2 separate regions of the Homo sapiens genome follow, and region 2 is linked to region 1. The links come from fine-mapping of genetic effects on gene expression. Tissue or cell type: macrophages. Region 1 holds a variant in brackets; the other region holds the start of a gene. All regions are shown on one strand. Distances are from middle to middle.

Region 1 (8,263 bases):
GCACAAGAATCATTTGAACCTGGGAGGCAGACGTTGCAGTGAGCCAAGATTGGGCCACTGACTCTAGCCTGGGCAACAGAGCGAGACTCCATCTCAAAAAAAAAAAGTTGAATACAGTTCTCAGTGTGTCCCTCAAGACCACCAACATTAGAATCAGTTGAGAGTGCTTGTTATATATATAAGTATTATATGTAATATGCAGATTCTTGGTCCCTTGAATTGAAATTCTAGGGATGACGATGGCCCAAAGAACTTTATTTTTATCAGTCTCCCTGATTCTTAGACCTACTAAAGTTTGAGAATCACTGATACAGTAAGTTTAAAATTAACTAACCTTGCTGAGCCGAAGGAAGGTGTCTATTTTCTAGCAAAACTATAAGTCTTTAGTGGCAATAGTCATTTCTTTCTTTTTTTTTTTTTTTTACTTCCTTGCAGCTCCAGCTCAAAGGATGTCATTTTTCGTAGTAAATAATCTTAGAAAGAAAAGTGATATTTTGAGGGACAGCTGATCCAATCAGCAACCATTTATTGAGAGCCTCCTGTGATAGCTGTGGTGTGCTAAAAGAATACCTTGTCATTTACTTTGGCACTTAATGGACACCAATGTCATTGTCTGTAAAATGCATATACTTCAGTTATTATGCTTACCTTGCGAGGCTTTTAGGATAAATAAATCTGAAAAGGTATTATAATCTGTAAAAGATTTTTATACAATTTTGGCTTTTAAGTGCCAGGTCCTGTTATAGGTATTCCAGGAAACACAAAAATGACCAAGGGCTCTACTAAACTTGTCCTGTGGAAGCAGGATACCTTTAATTAACTGTTACAAGGTAGGTCAGACAAGTGTTGAAATTGAGTGGAACGTGCTAAATCTCTGTTTAAGGCTTCTGTGTCTCATCTTGCCGTTTAAGGACATTGATAATACTTTTTATGTATGATTATTCCTTTCTCTTCCAATTCCTGATTCAGTGTTTTCTTTAAGGAAATAATTGCTTATATTGCCTGGTGATAGTTTCCTATTAACTCTTTTAGAAAGGTAGAGTGAGTAGAGATGATAATTCCTTCCTCTGTTGCTAAGCTACCACTGTTCATTCCATTCAGTAAACTTTTATGTGGCACCTTGTAAACGTGCTAGCCACAGACTGGTTGCAAGGCACAAAGCTTGTTTAAAAGATAATTGCCTGGATTTTAGCTTAAGTTCTTATGTTCCTAAAGATATGGCGTATATATGTGTGTTTTATGGTTGTTAATTGCATAATGTGGTACAGAGTATGGAGTCAGATGTGAGCAGGAATCCTTACTACACCTCTTAAAGCGATGTGACATTTAGATTCTGAGTTTCTTATGTACTATTGGGGTAACACTACCCCTCCTAGCAAAGTAGAACAGGTTCCATGAGATAAAAGTAACCGAAAGCAATTAGCTCAGTGTTTGTCATGTAGGAGGTGCTCAATAAATGTACATTTCTTTCTTCCTTTTGGGAAAAACAAAAATCAGGCATTGGGATTTCTGCATGACTTAAAACTTGGTTGCTTTATTTTTTTTAGACTAAGTCTACTTTTGGGATTTGGAATTTTTTATGGAAAACAATTTCGATTTTAGTATGTTTTCCATTTCATTTTTAGCCAATAAATTAGTATTCCCTTTATATAGGGTACACTTGTTGCAAATTATTTATTTTCAGAGTTTTACATTGATCTTTAATTTTACTTGTGTATACTTGACCTGCATTATATAGAGCAACATTCTTAGTACAGTCAGATCTCTGTATCTGTGGGTCCTCCCAGCCAAGGCTCAAAAATATCCACACACACACACACACACACACACACACAAAAGTAATCATACAATAATAAAAATAATACAAATAAAAACCCAATACAGTATAACAGTTGATTTGCATAGCACTTACAATTGTATTTGGCATTGTAAGTAGTCTAGAGATTATTTAAAGTATACAGGAGGATGTTCATAGGTTATATGCAAATACTGTGCCATTTTATATAAGGGATTTGAGCATCCACAGATTGTGGTATCCTGTGGGTTCCTGGAACCAGTCCTCCACAGATACAGAGAGACAACTGTATATAATAATCATTGGAAAAGATGTAGTTGCAGGCACTGAATAGAAATAGTTCATATATTTAGTTTTCAAAAAACTCTCAATTTATTAAATTTACTTAAGAACTGTTTTCAGAACATAGATTTTTCCTTATAAACTACAGTAGGCTAGAACTAGATTTTATAGCCTGCCAGTCTTTTCTTATAACCTTGGACAAGTTTGTTACCCTCTTTAAGTCTCAATTTTCTTTTCTATAAAATGCAACTGATAATAGTCACCTTACAGGATTATTGTAAGTATTAAATGATATAATGGGTAAATCAGAGCTATAGTTCAGTCCCATGAGTCCTGGTAAATCCGGACTCTGGAATTGGAAAATATATTTCTCTGAGTTTTGAAAAAAAGAGGTTGAAAGATTGTTAATTATTTATGTAGTTTACTATTAATAAGTAAAATCAGCATAATCTAATTTTGAAGTATTAGAGATTGCTAAATTAAGGAGGAACCAAGGTGTCAGTAGAATTAGCATTTAGTTATGTAGTAGAATACCTTATATTTTATAATGGTAAAATTTATTTAATAAAATAATTTGAAAAGTGCTGTTTTTACAGGTTGAGCATCCCTAATCCAAAAGTCTGAAATTCGAAATGCTCAAAGGTCCAAAACTTTTTGAGCACTGACATGATCTCACAAGTGGAAAAATTCCACGCCTGATCTCATGTGATGGGTCACAATCAAAATGGTCAAAACTTTGTTTCATGTACAAAATTATTAAAAATAGTGTATAAAGTTACCTTTAGGCTATGCGTATAAGTATACATGAAACAAATGAATTTTGTGTTTAGACTTGCGTCAGAATTCTAATCTGTCCCAAATGCTTCTGGTTCCAAGTATTTTAGATAAGGGATACTCAACGCATAAAGTATTTTCTATTTTACAAATTAATTAATACTTATATTTTTCTTTTAAATTATGGTAAATAGCCCATTTACGGAACTGGAAAAGTTAGAACAGTATTATATATTCACAGAGTTGTGCAAACATCACTGCTGTCTAATTTTAGAACATTTTAATCACTCCAAAGAGAAACTTGTACCCATTAACAGTCACTCCCAGGATCTCCCTAATCCTCCCAGCCCTAGGCAACCGCTAATGTACTTTCTGCCTCTATGGATTTGCCTATCGAGACATTTCATGTAAGTGGAATCATACGATATATGACTGGTTTCTCTTACTTAGCATAATAGTTTTAGGGTTCAGTAGCAAGTGTCAGTACTTCATTTCTTTTTATTGCTGAATAATATTCCATTGTATGGAAATACCACATTTTATTCATCAGTTAGGGCTGTTTCCACTTTTTGGCTACTATAAATAATGTTGTTGTGAACATTCATGTGCAAATTATTGTGTGGAAATATGCTTTCATTTCTCTTGGGTATTTATAGGGATGGAATTGCTGGGCCAAATGGTAGCTGTATGTTTAACCTTTCGAGAAACTATCAGATTGTTTTTACAAAGTAGCTGCACCTTTTTACAATCCCACCTGCGTTGTATGAAGGTTCCAATTTCTTCACGTCCTCACCAACACTTGTTATCTGTTTTTTTGATTATAACCATCCTAATGAGTGTGAAGTGGTAATGTAAGGCTCTATCTGCGGTTCATAACTTTTTTTTTTTCAATAGAGGCGAGGTTTCATTATGTTGGCTAGGCTGGTCTGGAGCTACTAACCTCAAATGATCCACCCACAGCCTCCCAAAGTGCTGGGATTACAGGCATGAGCCACCATGCTCCTGGTTAATAACTTTTATTTACAGTCATTAGGTAAATTGTTGAAGCTTTTACTTGCAGATGCATTGCCAGATTCTTTGATGATAGGGAATGTTTTTGGCCTGAGGATAAAAGTTGTAGGCCAGGCGCTGTGGCTCACGCCTGTAATCCCAGCACTTTGGGAGGCTGAGGTGGGCCGATCGCCTGAGGTCAGGAGTTCGAGACCAGCCTGGCCAATATGGTGAAACTCTGTCTCTCCTGAAAATACAAGCCTTTCGGTTCAAAATCACCACTATATGGTGGCAGATACCTGTAATCCCAGCTACTTGGGAGGCTGAGACAGGAGAATTGCTTGAACCAGGGAGGCGGAGGTTGCAGTGAGCCAAGACTGCACCATTGCACTCCAGCCTGGGCAAGAAGAGCGAAACTCCATCTCAAAAACAAAAAAAGCTGTAAACTTTCTAGTTTCCTGTTTAGTAAACAGTGAACTCTGGTTAATAGAACTGATTAACCACATTGGGTGGTGATAGGAATGGTGGTGTGAGGACTTCAGCTGTATAAAAGGCTGTCTTCTATTAATATGAATATTTCTTTCTTTTTTTTTTTTGAGATGGAGTCTTGCTCTGTTGCCCAGGCTGGAGTGCGGTGGCGCAGTCTTGGCTCACTGCAACCTCTGTCTCCCAGATTCAAGCGATCCTCCTGCCTCAACCTCCCTGGTAGCGGGGACTACAGGTGCGCGCCACCATGCCTGGATAAGTTTTGTAATTTTAGTAGCGACGGGATTTCACCATGTTGGCCAGGCCGGTCTCAAACTGACCTCAAGTGATCTGCCTGCCTTGGCCTCCCAAAGTGCTGGGATTACAGGAATGAGCCACTGTTCCCAGCCTTAACATG[ATTTTTTTTTTTTTT/A]TTTTTTTTTTTTTTTTTTTTTGAGATAGACTCTCGCTCTGTCAACCAGGCTAGAGTGCAGTAGTGTGATCTTGGCTCACTGTAACCTCCACCTCCCAGTTCAAACAATTCTCCTGACCCAGCCTCTCGAGTAGCTGTTACTACAGGCGCCTGTCACTATGCACCGCTAATTTTTGTATTTTGAGTAGAGATGGGGTTTTGCCGTGTTGACCAGGCTGATCTTGAACATGTAGAATGAAGGTCTAAAACTTGCACTTTGTTTACTCAAACAATGGTTCCCTGTAGTATTTCCTAACTGGTTTGAAAAAAAACTTTAGAAACATTAGCAAGTAATTATTGCTGACTTTGAACTATGTCCTAAAAAACCTCATAGGAAGGCTTTAATACCTTGAATGAGTGCTGGGATTACAGACGTGAGCCACCGCGCCTGGGCAATATGAATATTTCTTAAGAAAAGGCAATTGTAATGCCTGAGTTTAGTTTTTCTTTAACTCTACTGAAACATTTCTAAAAATTTACAGTCTAGTTTCATATTAACATTTCTAGGCAGTCAGGCATGACAGATTTTAAGAATTGCCGTTACCTCTCAATGATACATAATTTTATATAAATACAAATGTCATTGTTTGTCTTGTATGTAGAATATTACCCGATGTTTTGGTTACTCATTCAAGGTATGCCCTGCCACCACGCGTGGCTAATTTTTGTATTTTTAGTAGAGACGGGGTTTCACTATCTTGGCCAGGCTGGTCTTGAACTCCTGACCTCGTGATCCACCTGCTTTGGCCTCCCAAAGTGCTGGGATTACAGGTGTGAGCCACTGCCCGGCCTGTAGTGGTGATTTTAAGCTGAAAGGCTTGTTCTGGTTTATTATACAATCTTTTAGTTCCTTTGGATGATATAGTTTCCGTATAAAGTTACAAAAACAGTAGTTCTGGAGCCTTTCTGGTAGGATTAATGAAAAGATATGCATTTCTGTTTGCAATATAGTTTGGTTCTTTTCTAACCTTTCATGATTAAAGTTTGCTGTTTATCTGTGAGATTTCATTTTATTAAAATGAAGAAAGAGTAAATTGTACATATTTTTATATGTTACATAGCCCAACAGAGTCTATCTCAAAATTCTCTTTACTAAAATAAACTGACTGGTGTGGTGGCATGTGCGTCTAGTCTCAGTTACTTGGGAGGCTGAGGCGGGAAGATTGCCTGAGCCCAGGAGTTCTGGGCTGTAGTGTGCTATGCTGATCAGTGTTTGCACTAAGTTTGGCATCAGTATGGTGACCTCCTGAGAGGGGGTGACCTCCTGGAAGTCGGAGACCACCAGGTTGCCTAAGGAGGGGTGAACTGGCCCAGGCTGGGAATGGAGCAGCTCAAAACTCCCATGCTGATCAGTAGTGGGATCATGTCTGAGAATAGCCACCCCACTCCAGCCTGGGCAACATAGTGAGACCTAATCTCTAAATAGATAGATAGATAGATGATAGATGATAGCTAGATAGATAGCTAGATAGATGAGATATATAGGGCCAGGCACGGTGGCTCATGCCTGTAATCCCAACGCTTTGGGAGGCCGAGGTGGATGGATCGCTTGAGGTCAGGAATTCAAGATCAGCCTGGCCAACATTGTGAAACCCTGTCTCTACTAAAAATACAAAAATTGGCTGGGCGTGGCGTTGGGCCCCTGTAATCTCAGTTACTCAGGAGGCTGAGGCAGGAGAATCGCTTGAACCTGGGAACCCGGAGGGGAGGTGCAGTGAGCCGAGATCACGCCACTGCACGCCAGCCTGGGCAACAGGGGAACATACTGTCTTAAAAAAAAAAAAAAAGAAGAAAAGATAGAACAAGCAATGTCAAAATTTTGTAAAAACACCCTGTCAGGATTTATACAAACTTTAATCTCCATTTTTCATTTTCAGTTGAGCAGGAGAAACAGTCCCTAAAAGGTAATTAAAATAAAACACTGCCAGTTTGAAACTTGAACTTCACAGTACATCATGTAGGCCTTTTTGTGATTCTGGTGATAATTGTCTTTTTTTTTTTTTTTTTAGTAGTAGTAGCCGAGGTAAATTATTTTTGAAGTTATTGTGAGGTCACTCATGGAAATTTCTGCTCAGTGTTTAAAAAGCAAGGTTGAGATTCTTTAACCTGGCATACAGCCTTCATGATTTGGTTCCAAGCTGATCATTCCTCCCTCCTGTTTTTGCATCCTGTTCTTCCAAGATTCCAGGTTTATGGAGTTTTCCTTGATTCTTTTACCTTGTATTACTTTTTGTGGAATATAAAAGCTTTCCCTGTAGTGTGCCATCTTTCTGGTAAGTGTTTCACATATGTTATTTGTAACTCTTACTAAGGATATTATAAGGTCATTATATTATTATGCATTTTACAGCTGAGGGAACTGAGGCTTGGAGAGTTTTATTGATTTTCCTAAGCTTAAGCCCACATTGATGATTCAAACTTATATATCAAGCTCATATATCTCTGACTAGAAAGTCCACACTCTTTTTTCATCCTGTGAATCTTGTCCTGTGTCTATGTGTGTGTGTATGTGTGTTTTTTCTTTTTTTTTTTTTGAGATGGGGTCTCGCTCTGTCATCCAGGCTGGAGTGCAGTGGTGTGGTCTCGGCTCACTGCAACCTCTGCCTCCCGGGTTCAAGCAATTCTCCTGCCTCAGCCTCCCGAGTAGCTGGGACTACAGGCACCCACCACTACACCTGGCTAATTTTTTGTATTTTTAGTAGAGACAAGGTTTCACCATGTTGGTCAGGCTGGTCTGGAACTCCTGACCTCAAGTGATCCACCCGCCTCGGCCTCCCAAAGTGCTGGGATTAGAGACATGAGCCACCTCTCTGAGCCCATCCAGGATTTCTAAAGTATGTTCCCTAGGAGCAAGGAGATGTTCTTTAGTCAAATAAGTTTGGGTTTTCAGCTTACTATATATCCCTTAGGTAGAAGTTTGCAAATGCACGTTAGTATTCTAAAGACTGAGGAGTGGAAGAAACTTGTTTAACTTTGTTCAGCTATGTATTACCCCAATTTTTTTTTTGAGATGGAGTTTTGCTCTTGTTACCCAGGCTGGAGTGCAGTGGCACCATCTTGGTTAACTGCAACCTCCGCCTTCCAGGTTCAAATAATTCTCCTGCCTCAGCCTCCTGATTAGCTGGGATTACAGGCATGCACCACCATGTCTGGCTAATTTTTGTATTTTTAGTAGAGATGGGATTTCACCATGTTGGCCAGGCTGATCTCGAACTCCTGACCTCAGATGATCCACCTGCCTCAGCCTCCTAAAGTACTGGGATTACAGGCATGAGCCAGTGTGCCTGGCTATATTACCCAAACTTATTTGGTTGTGGAACCCCTTTTTTCCACGTAGGCCTTAGTAATTAATACCCTTTACTGATGTAGGTCAACTTTTACCTGTTTTTTAAAGTCTCACCCTCACCGTATCCGAGACTTTGAACTCTCAGATGATAGGCCCTGATTACTTCCTGAAGGTGCTCATTCTGCACGTTATTAGAATAT
Region 2 (8,000 bases), 220 kb after region 1:
CAGCCTGGCAGACACACCAGCAGCTCTGCATCTTCCTCCAGCCCTTCCTCCTCCTCCTCCTCCTCCACATCCCGCATACAGTCTGCCGCCAACTTCTCGATGTGGGCCATGGGCAGGGGGGCTGGGGGAAAAAGGTCACAACAAGTCAGCACAACTCAGATAAGTTCAGGGATGAGTAAAGGAGGGGCTTGGTAGATCCACCCAGGCAGAAATCCCTCTTCCCTCCCACAGCAGAGTCCCACCTGGAAAACTGCTCTTCCTTTAAGACCCAGTTCAAAAGACCCTCAACAGGGAAACCTTCCTTGGCCCCCCACCAAGCAACAAGCTGCTCCTTTCTCTGCACCTCTGCCTACGGTAGCCTGACATAGACATGGCCATCCACTCTCTCCAACCTCCAACAACACCTTTCACATCTGTAAAGATTTTCAAAGTCCAACAGAGCTTCAAAACAAATCTGCAAGATGGATAATATCCCCTTTTCATATATTGAATAAACTGAGAAACTTCCAACATTAATTTTCCTATCACTGCAATCCTTAAGTGGCAGAGCTAGGATTCAAACCTAGGCTTGTGCCACCCCAAGGCAGGAGCAGTGAGCCCCTTCCTAGGTCCTCCCATTATCCTCAACTCAGGGACACACAGGATGGTGGGGGATGAGTGGGGGGATTCTCTGAGGGTTCCCGGTGAAAAGAGAGGACGATTTAGACCTCCTGATCCTCCCAGGCCTGAAGTCTCTGTTCTCATCTGGGCTGTGGAGGGAGATTCCACTTAACTCGCTGGACACAATTTCTATGTACTTCCTATGTACCCAGTTCAGTCTGTGCTAACTGGGCCCCTACCCTACACCAATACCGTGGCTAGGGCTAAGGATGGGGACCTGAGTCAGTCTGAGAAACACATTTGTCCACAATGGGGAGGGGCCAGCCCAGGCCATGACACAAGGTGGGGAAGCAGGGCGAGGCCGCCTCTTGGTGGGAGTGCGGCAGATGGGTATTGGAAGGACCAGGGGATCTGGCTGGCTCCGTCCAGCTGCAAGGGAACCCCTCTACCACCAGCCTGTGCCCATCTTGTCCCAGCACCAAGACCAGCCCTGTGTCCAAACTCACCCTGCCCCTTGGGTGCTGGCTTCTTGCCTGTGGTTTGTGCTTCCCCTGTGAGAGCCAGCAGCTCAGCCTCCAGGTCCTCATCATCTTCAGCCTCATCCATGCCCAGCAGCATGTCCTCAGGGCCAAACTCCATAAAGAGCCCCATCTGAGAGCAGAGCAGGACTCTTAGGAACCACACAACAAGCAGGGTAGGGTCCAGCTCCAGAGCCAGACTTGGGGCTCTCCAAGTCCCAATCAGTGGCTCCTTCAGTCTGTGAGGCCCAATGTGCAGAAAGAAACTGAGGCCTGCAACATTACTCCTTGAGACACTTACCTTCCTAGGGACTCAACAAAAAACCCAGTAAGACCACACTGAAACTGAGACAGTCTTGTGAGTCAGAATTTAAAACACACTACCATTATTACAACCAACAGCAATAGCTGCCATCATGCACTGTTCTTAGCGTTCTATGTGATTATCTTAACCACCTCAGTTAATTCTCACAATTCTGAGAAGAAGGTCCTATTTTTTGGCCAGGCGCGGTGGCTCACGCCTGTAATCCCAGCACTTTGGGAGGCCGAGGCGGGTGGATCACGAGGTCAGGAGATGGAGACCATCCTGGCTAACACGGTGAAACCCCGTCTCTACTAAAAAATGCAAAAAATTAGCCGGGCGCGGTGGCGGGCGCCTGTAGTCCCAGCTACTCGGGAGGCTGAGGCAGGAGAATGGCGTGAACCCGGGAGATGGAGCTTGCAGTGAGCCAAGATGGCGCCACTGCACTCCAGCCTGGGCGACACAGCGAGACTCCGTCTCAAAAAAAAAAAAAAAAAAGAAGGTCCTATTTTTTTAAACTCTGGTAAAACACATACAACATGAAATTTACCATCTTAACCACTGTTAAGGGTGAGTTCAATGGCATAAGGACATTCACAATATCCTGCTACCATCGCCATCATCCATCCACAGAACTGTTTTCATGTTGTGAAACAAACTTTCTACCCATTAAACATTAACCCCCCTTCCTCCCCTCCTTCCAGCCTCTGGTAAGCACCATTCTTCTGTTTCCATGAATATGACTACTCTAGGTAGAGGTACATCCTTTTTTTTTTTTTTTTCTGAGACAGAGTCTGGCTCTGTCGCCCAGGCTAGAGTGCAGTGGCACTATCTTGGCTCACTGCAACCTCTGCCTCCCGGGTCTAAGCGATTCTCCTGCCTCAGCCTCCCAAGAAGCTGGGAATACAGGCACATGCCACCACGCCCAGCTAATTTTTGTATTTTTAGTAGAGATGGGGTTTCACTATGTTGGCCAGGCTGGTCTCAAACTCCTGACCTCAGGTGATCCACCCACCTCGGCCTCCCAAAGTGCTGGGATTACAGGCGTGATCCACGGCACCCAGCTTACATTCTGTTTTTATCCCAATGTTCAGATGAAACTGAGACAGTCTTGTGAGACAATCAGAATTTAAAACAAGCTCTTTGCGACTTGAGTCTATGCCCTTTACCCCACCTCCTTTCTTACCTGCCTTTTTAAAGACAGTAAAAATGGACTAAGAAGTCTCAAGATGTAGGCCCAGAAGAAATAAAGGAAGAAAATTGGAGAGGAGACCCCCCTGTTCTTCCACTTGGGGCACAGCCATCTGTCCCTAGGCAGTGAAGTCCTCCCACTGACTACAGCCCTCATGCCCTGGCATCCCTGGCTAACAAGCAAAGTTGTGACCCTATCTAAGGAACCTTTGAGAGCACTGAGGTCCCATCAGAACATCCTAAACTTTGGTGATTCCTGAACCCTCTCCCCACTTGTATGTGGAAGAGACTAGTAGGAGGGTGTCTAAGGGCTCTGCCACCTCCAGGAGGCACTGCTCCAAGTCTCTGAACTAATGGGGGAACTACATGTGATCCAGTTTGCCTAAGTTGTCTAGGGACCCCCATCCCCAAACCGACCCAGTAGCCTAGAAGGCTAAGTTCCATACCTGCTTGGCAGCGGCCACCCCTTGGCCTCTGGCCTGAGGGCCCTTCCGAGGTCTTGGCCCTGGCATCATGGCAGCCTAGATACCTATGGAAGAGTTACAGAGATTCAGGCTGGAGTAGCCCATAAGCCACGCCCCCAACAGTGCTACCCGTGGTAAGGTGTGGATAGTAAACTCCCAAAGAAGGCAATGCTGAACACCAAAGTATGGGTTACCTTTAATTAAAGCACTGAAGCAGCACAGGCCATGGGAGGGATGGGGATCACCTGTTAATGGGTTTACTGAGGAATGTTCTGAACGGACTCAAATTTAAAAAGCACATTCAGGGAAGTACTCTAGGTTCAGGGTGGGTGGAAGGCTGGGTAGAATTCAGAAAGGCTCTAAAGCTGTGCTTATGGAAGCCACAGCTGGCTATTTAATTTTAAATTTCAATGAATTAAAATGAAATAAAGCTAAAAATCCAGTCCATCAGCCACAACAGACACATTCCAAGTGCTTAACAGCCATATGTGGTGAGGGGCTATGACCAGACAGCACACACACAGAACATTTTCATCATCCAAGGACATGTCATCAAAGTTCCATCTCACAGCTGAGCTCTGGAGAAAGCTGGCTCAGCATTCTGATTCCCATAAAGATCTCACAGTTATTCACAGGACCTCCTGTGTCAGACCTTGCGCTGGGCACTGGGAGCGCAGAAATGAACCTAAGACGGTCTCAGCCTTCAATGACCATTTACAGGGTGGAGGTGGACTACACGGGGTTGCCCCAGGGGCCATGGGTGCCCTGAGGTGACCCCTTCTTCAGCCCTGGGAGAAAAGGCTCCTCCTTCGAGGCGGTGACGCCTGAGCTGAGTCACGCAAAGAAGTTGGGGGAAAGAGGGAAATAGGATTCCAAGACGAGGGAACACTTGACGGCTCTGAAGTGGGGAGCAGCTTGGCCTGTACAATGGAACCTGAGGCCTGGTATGACTGGGGCATAAGCGGTGAGGCCTGAATGCACAAGCCGAGGTGGAAATGTGAGCAAGCGGCAGAATATGAAAACCTCTAAGCCGAAAAGCGTTTGGGCATTATTCTGAGGGCGCTGGGAAAGAAGTGGCGGGATCGTATCGGTGTTTCAGAAACCCCATTCTGGCACCAAAGGGGAGGTGCACAGAAGGTAGGGGGAAAAGGCAGGAAGCCGGCGCATCTCGCCACAGCGCTGGCGGGGAGACCAGCTGACGGGCGTGGAGGCGGCGGGGAGCGGGCGGAGGAGCTGGCGGGCGCTCCGGGGGACTCTGAGTGTCAGATTTCGGGAGTGACTCCGGCTCAGGTGAAAGCGAGGCCAGACACTCCAAGGCTGCGGCCCCGATGACACAGCCAGGCCTCACGGAAGGTGGGCAACGGAGTCCGTAGGGGGAGGCGACACGGGACCCCCACTCCCGCGCTGCGGGACGCGCCGCCCTGCCCCGCCCGCGCCGCCTCCATCTACCCCCGCGGTCCCCAGAACTCCCCACGCCGAGGGGCGGGGACGCGGCATACCTCGCGGTGAATCCGAGCCAAACCCCGGCCTTGTCTCACCCGGCACCGCCCTGGGCTCCCGCGGGCCCTGGGCCGCAGCGGTAGCGACAGGAAGCGCCAGCAGGGGAGGTGGCTCGCGCGCAACACGTGACCCCACTGGCCGGCGGCCGGCAGTGCGCATGTGCACGGCTACGCGGGCGGGGGGCTCCAACAGGTGACACCGGGGCGGGGTTCGCAGCGCGCAGGCGCGTTCGGGTAGGTAGCGCAGGACAGGAACTCTGGGCGGTTCCGCCGGGGCGTCCACCGGCCGGCTCCAATGAGGTCGCTGCGCCCAGCCCTCGCCCACTTGCAGCCTCTCCACCGAACCTCCTCCCTCACTCAGCCCGAGGCGCTGGGCGCTCGCTCGCTCGCTGGACCTACCCCGCCTCCAGCCCTCGCCCCGCCCCACCGAGCAAGAGGGCGGGGCCTACCCAAGCTCCGCCCTGGAAGAGAGACAGGGGCGGGGCTCACCTGCTTGTCCATGTCCTTTAAGCCTGGGGAAATGGAAATGGGGCCCACCATATGTTTCTTAATAATTCAGCACCTGAAAGTATCCTTTTCCGGTCCGTTGAAAACTTCAGACAGGCAGAGCTCGCTGCACATCTTAAATACTTTACAGAGTCTAACACTAAGTTCTCACTCGCCTACCCTGCTGTGCAATCAAATGGCATGGAGGATATTAAGGAGAGAAACGGAGTATACCCGTTTTCTGCCAAGCTTGTGTCAGTCACTTTTCATAATGGAGCTTATACCAGTTCTCAATCCTGCAAGATGGACATCATCTCTAGAAGAAACGGAGGCTCAGAGAGAATTATTTGCCCAGGGAAATACAAAACCAACCTCTTTAGCATCAGTAAATATGCTCTAGTCTAGTTTTCTAAGGAAAGCACGTTTCTCCCTGCGGCTTGCAGAGTCCAGTTAACAAGAGATTGAGCTCAGGAGTCCGAGACCAGCCTGGGCAACATGGCGAAACCCTGTCTCTACAAAAAATTACAAATATTAGCCGGGTGTGGTGGTGCGTGCCTGTAGTCCTACCTACTGAGAGGCCGAGGCAGGAGAATCGCTGTGGCCCCGGAGGTCCAAGCTGCAATGAGCTGTCAACTGCACTCCAACCCGGGTGACAAGGTGAGACCCTGTCTCAAACTAAAACAAACAAAAAAACCGAGAGCGGAGTAATGGGGAAGTGGCCAGATTCCCATCTAAAGTAACCACTTCGATTTTGGGGGGAAAGAGAACGGCTTAAAAGGAAAATTTGATATGGGAAGCATGCAAGAATTGTACAGAGTACAACGTCTGTGTGTCTTGTTCTGGTGGCTATCTTGGGTCCCAGCCTACCTGGAGCGTGGGCTGGTCTCATCTCCACAATGGCCCCGCTGTTGACTAGCCACCTTGAAGTAATCTTTGGAATTTTGCAGCTGTGTCTCCAGGCTTGGTTTGTCTGTCTCAAGATTAGCCCTTGGAACTTCTCAGAAGGCAGATAATTAAATACTAGCATACAGTAAGATAAATGTGAAGGGAGTATATACAGTGAGAAAGGGAGGGATATGGGGTCTATTTTACAGCTAAGGGAAAAGGCTTTTGCAGTTTGCTTCAAGGTTGTATCTTGAAACCCAAGAGAAAGGAAAAAAAGTTTTAAAATGTATTTTAAAGTTAAACTGCTGGATTAGTTTCTTCTGTCTAAAACATTGCCATCTCCTCTCCTGCCTATGCCTTGAACTTTTAAATTATGTTTTCTAGTTAGCGATCTCCCAGTTTACTTGGACAAAGGGCTTTTCCATCTCCTGATTGCTTACTTTTTTTCTTTTTTTTTTTTTTGAGACAGGATCTCATTCTGTCACCCAGGCTAGAGTGCAGTGGTGCGATCTCCACTCACTGCAACCTGCACCTCCCAGGCTCAAGCAATCCTCTCACCTCAGCCTCTTGAGTAGCTGGGACCACAGGCACGTGCCACCATGCCCAGCATTTTTTTTTTTTTTTTTGTAGAAACATGTTTTTGCTATGTGCCCAGGCTGATCTCAAACTCCTGAGCTCAGGGGATCAACCCACATCAGCCTCCCAAAGTGCTGGGATTACAGGCGTGAGCCACCATGCCCTGCCCATTACCATATTTAAATTGAGATTTCACATCCATATTTCTCATTCCTTTTAAAATTATTTAAAAATTTTTATAATGAAACATTTAAGATATAAACAAAGATACACAATATTTAACATTTACTAGAATGCAAGCTCCAGAAGGAGAAATTTTTTTATTGCTTCTCCAAGTGTCTCGTGTCTACAGCAGTGCATGGTACATAGTAGGCACTCAATAGTTCCTTGTTGTGTGAATTAACTACATGGACATCTATTACCAGTTTAAGGGAAAAAAAAAAGCAGGTGAGCGGGCGCGTCCCCGCGACCGCGCTGCCTCCCCGAGGCGGTTCACGTAAAGCCAGCGAGGCCCTGCCTGCCAGCCGGGAAGGAGGCGTGGTTATGGAGCTGGCGGCTGCAACCCCGGGGCCCGCGCCGCTGCCTAGCGCTTCCCGGGGGCTCTTTGGGGACGCGCCCCCCGCCGCGGCTCGGGGACCCGTAGAGCCCGGCGCTGCGCGGTTGGCCCTTCTCCCGCGCCCCGCGCTCACCCTCCTGCTCCTCCTCATGGCCGCTGTTATCAGGTGCCTGGAGCAGGCCTAGACCACCGACTGGAGGGCCACCCTGAAGACCATCCGGAACGGCGTTCATAAGATAGACACGTACCTGAACGCCGCCTTGGACCTCCTGGGAGGCGAGGACGGTCTCTGCCAGTATAAATGCAGTGACGGATCTAAGCCTTTCCCACGTTATGGTTATAAACCCTCCCCACCGAATGGATGTGGCTCTCCACTGTTTGGCGTTCATCTTAACATTGGTATCCCTTCCCTGACAAAGTGTTGCAACTAACACGACAGGTGCTATGAGAACTGTGGCAAAAGCAAGAATGACTGTGATGAGAAATTCCAGTATTGCCTCTCCAAGATCTGCCGAGAAGTACAGAAAACACTAGGACTAACTTAGCATGTTCAGGCATGTGAAACAACAATGGAGCTCTTGTTTGACAGTGTTATACATTTAGGTTGTAAACCATATCTGGACAGCCAACGAGCCACATGCAGGTGTCATTATGAAGAAAAAACCGATATTTAAAGGAGATGCTGACAGCTGGTGACAGATGAAGACGGAAGAACATAACCTTTGACAAATAACTAATGTTTTTACAACATAAAACTATCTGATTTTTGTGAAAAAAGAAAAACAAACATAGTTGGAGCTACCTGTACATCTCCCATATTGCAACACCTCCCTTTCCCAAAGATGTACCCATTATCCTAAATTTAGTGTTTATTATTCCTGAGCATTTCTATTTCTGTGTAGGTATCCTTAAGCAATACATAGT

Alleles and levels. Alleles are on the strand shown, and positions count from the first base shown. SD is a standard deviation of normalised expression in the study named.
With allele ATTTTTTTTTTTTTT in place of A in region 1, the expression in macrophages of the gene that starts at base 4,710 in region 2 is higher (large effect, 1.8 SD a copy in Nedelec 2016).

What was found. PIP is the estimated chance that this variant, and not a neighbour inherited with it, causes the effect.
Region 2: it holds the start of CC2D1B, and the variant in region 1 is fine-mapped to the expression of CC2D1B in macrophages (Nedelec 2016, PIP 0.91).

Annotation. Positions count from the first base shown.
Region 1 is chr1:52,144,223-52,152,485 of GRCh38, forward strand. The region is part of intron 1 of ZFYVE9 (zinc finger FYVE-type containing 9); the gene reads left to right. The region is part of intron 4 of LOC107984956 (collagen alpha-2(I) chain-like); the gene reads left to right. It also overlaps the pseudogene RN7SL788P. Among named protein-coding and RNA genes, the nearest start is that of ZFYVE9, 6.3 kb to the left of the region's middle. RefSeq lists an enhancer at 3,639-4,172. The variant ATTTTTTTTTTTTTT/A (reference allele first, on the strand shown) is at 4,725.
Region 2 is chr1:52,361,496-52,369,495 of GRCh38, forward strand. CC2D1B (coiled-coil and C2 domain containing 1B) reads right to left here and starts at 4,710. Exons shown (of 25, transcript NM_001330585.2): 1 at 4,574-4,710; 2 at 3,057-3,139; 3 at 1,107-1,251; 4 at 18-121. The coding sequence starts at 3,125. It also overlaps the pseudogene PLA2G12AP1. RefSeq lists silencers at 4,310-4,419, 4,460-5,089, 7,072-7,171, 7,232-7,311 and an enhancer at 6,902-6,951.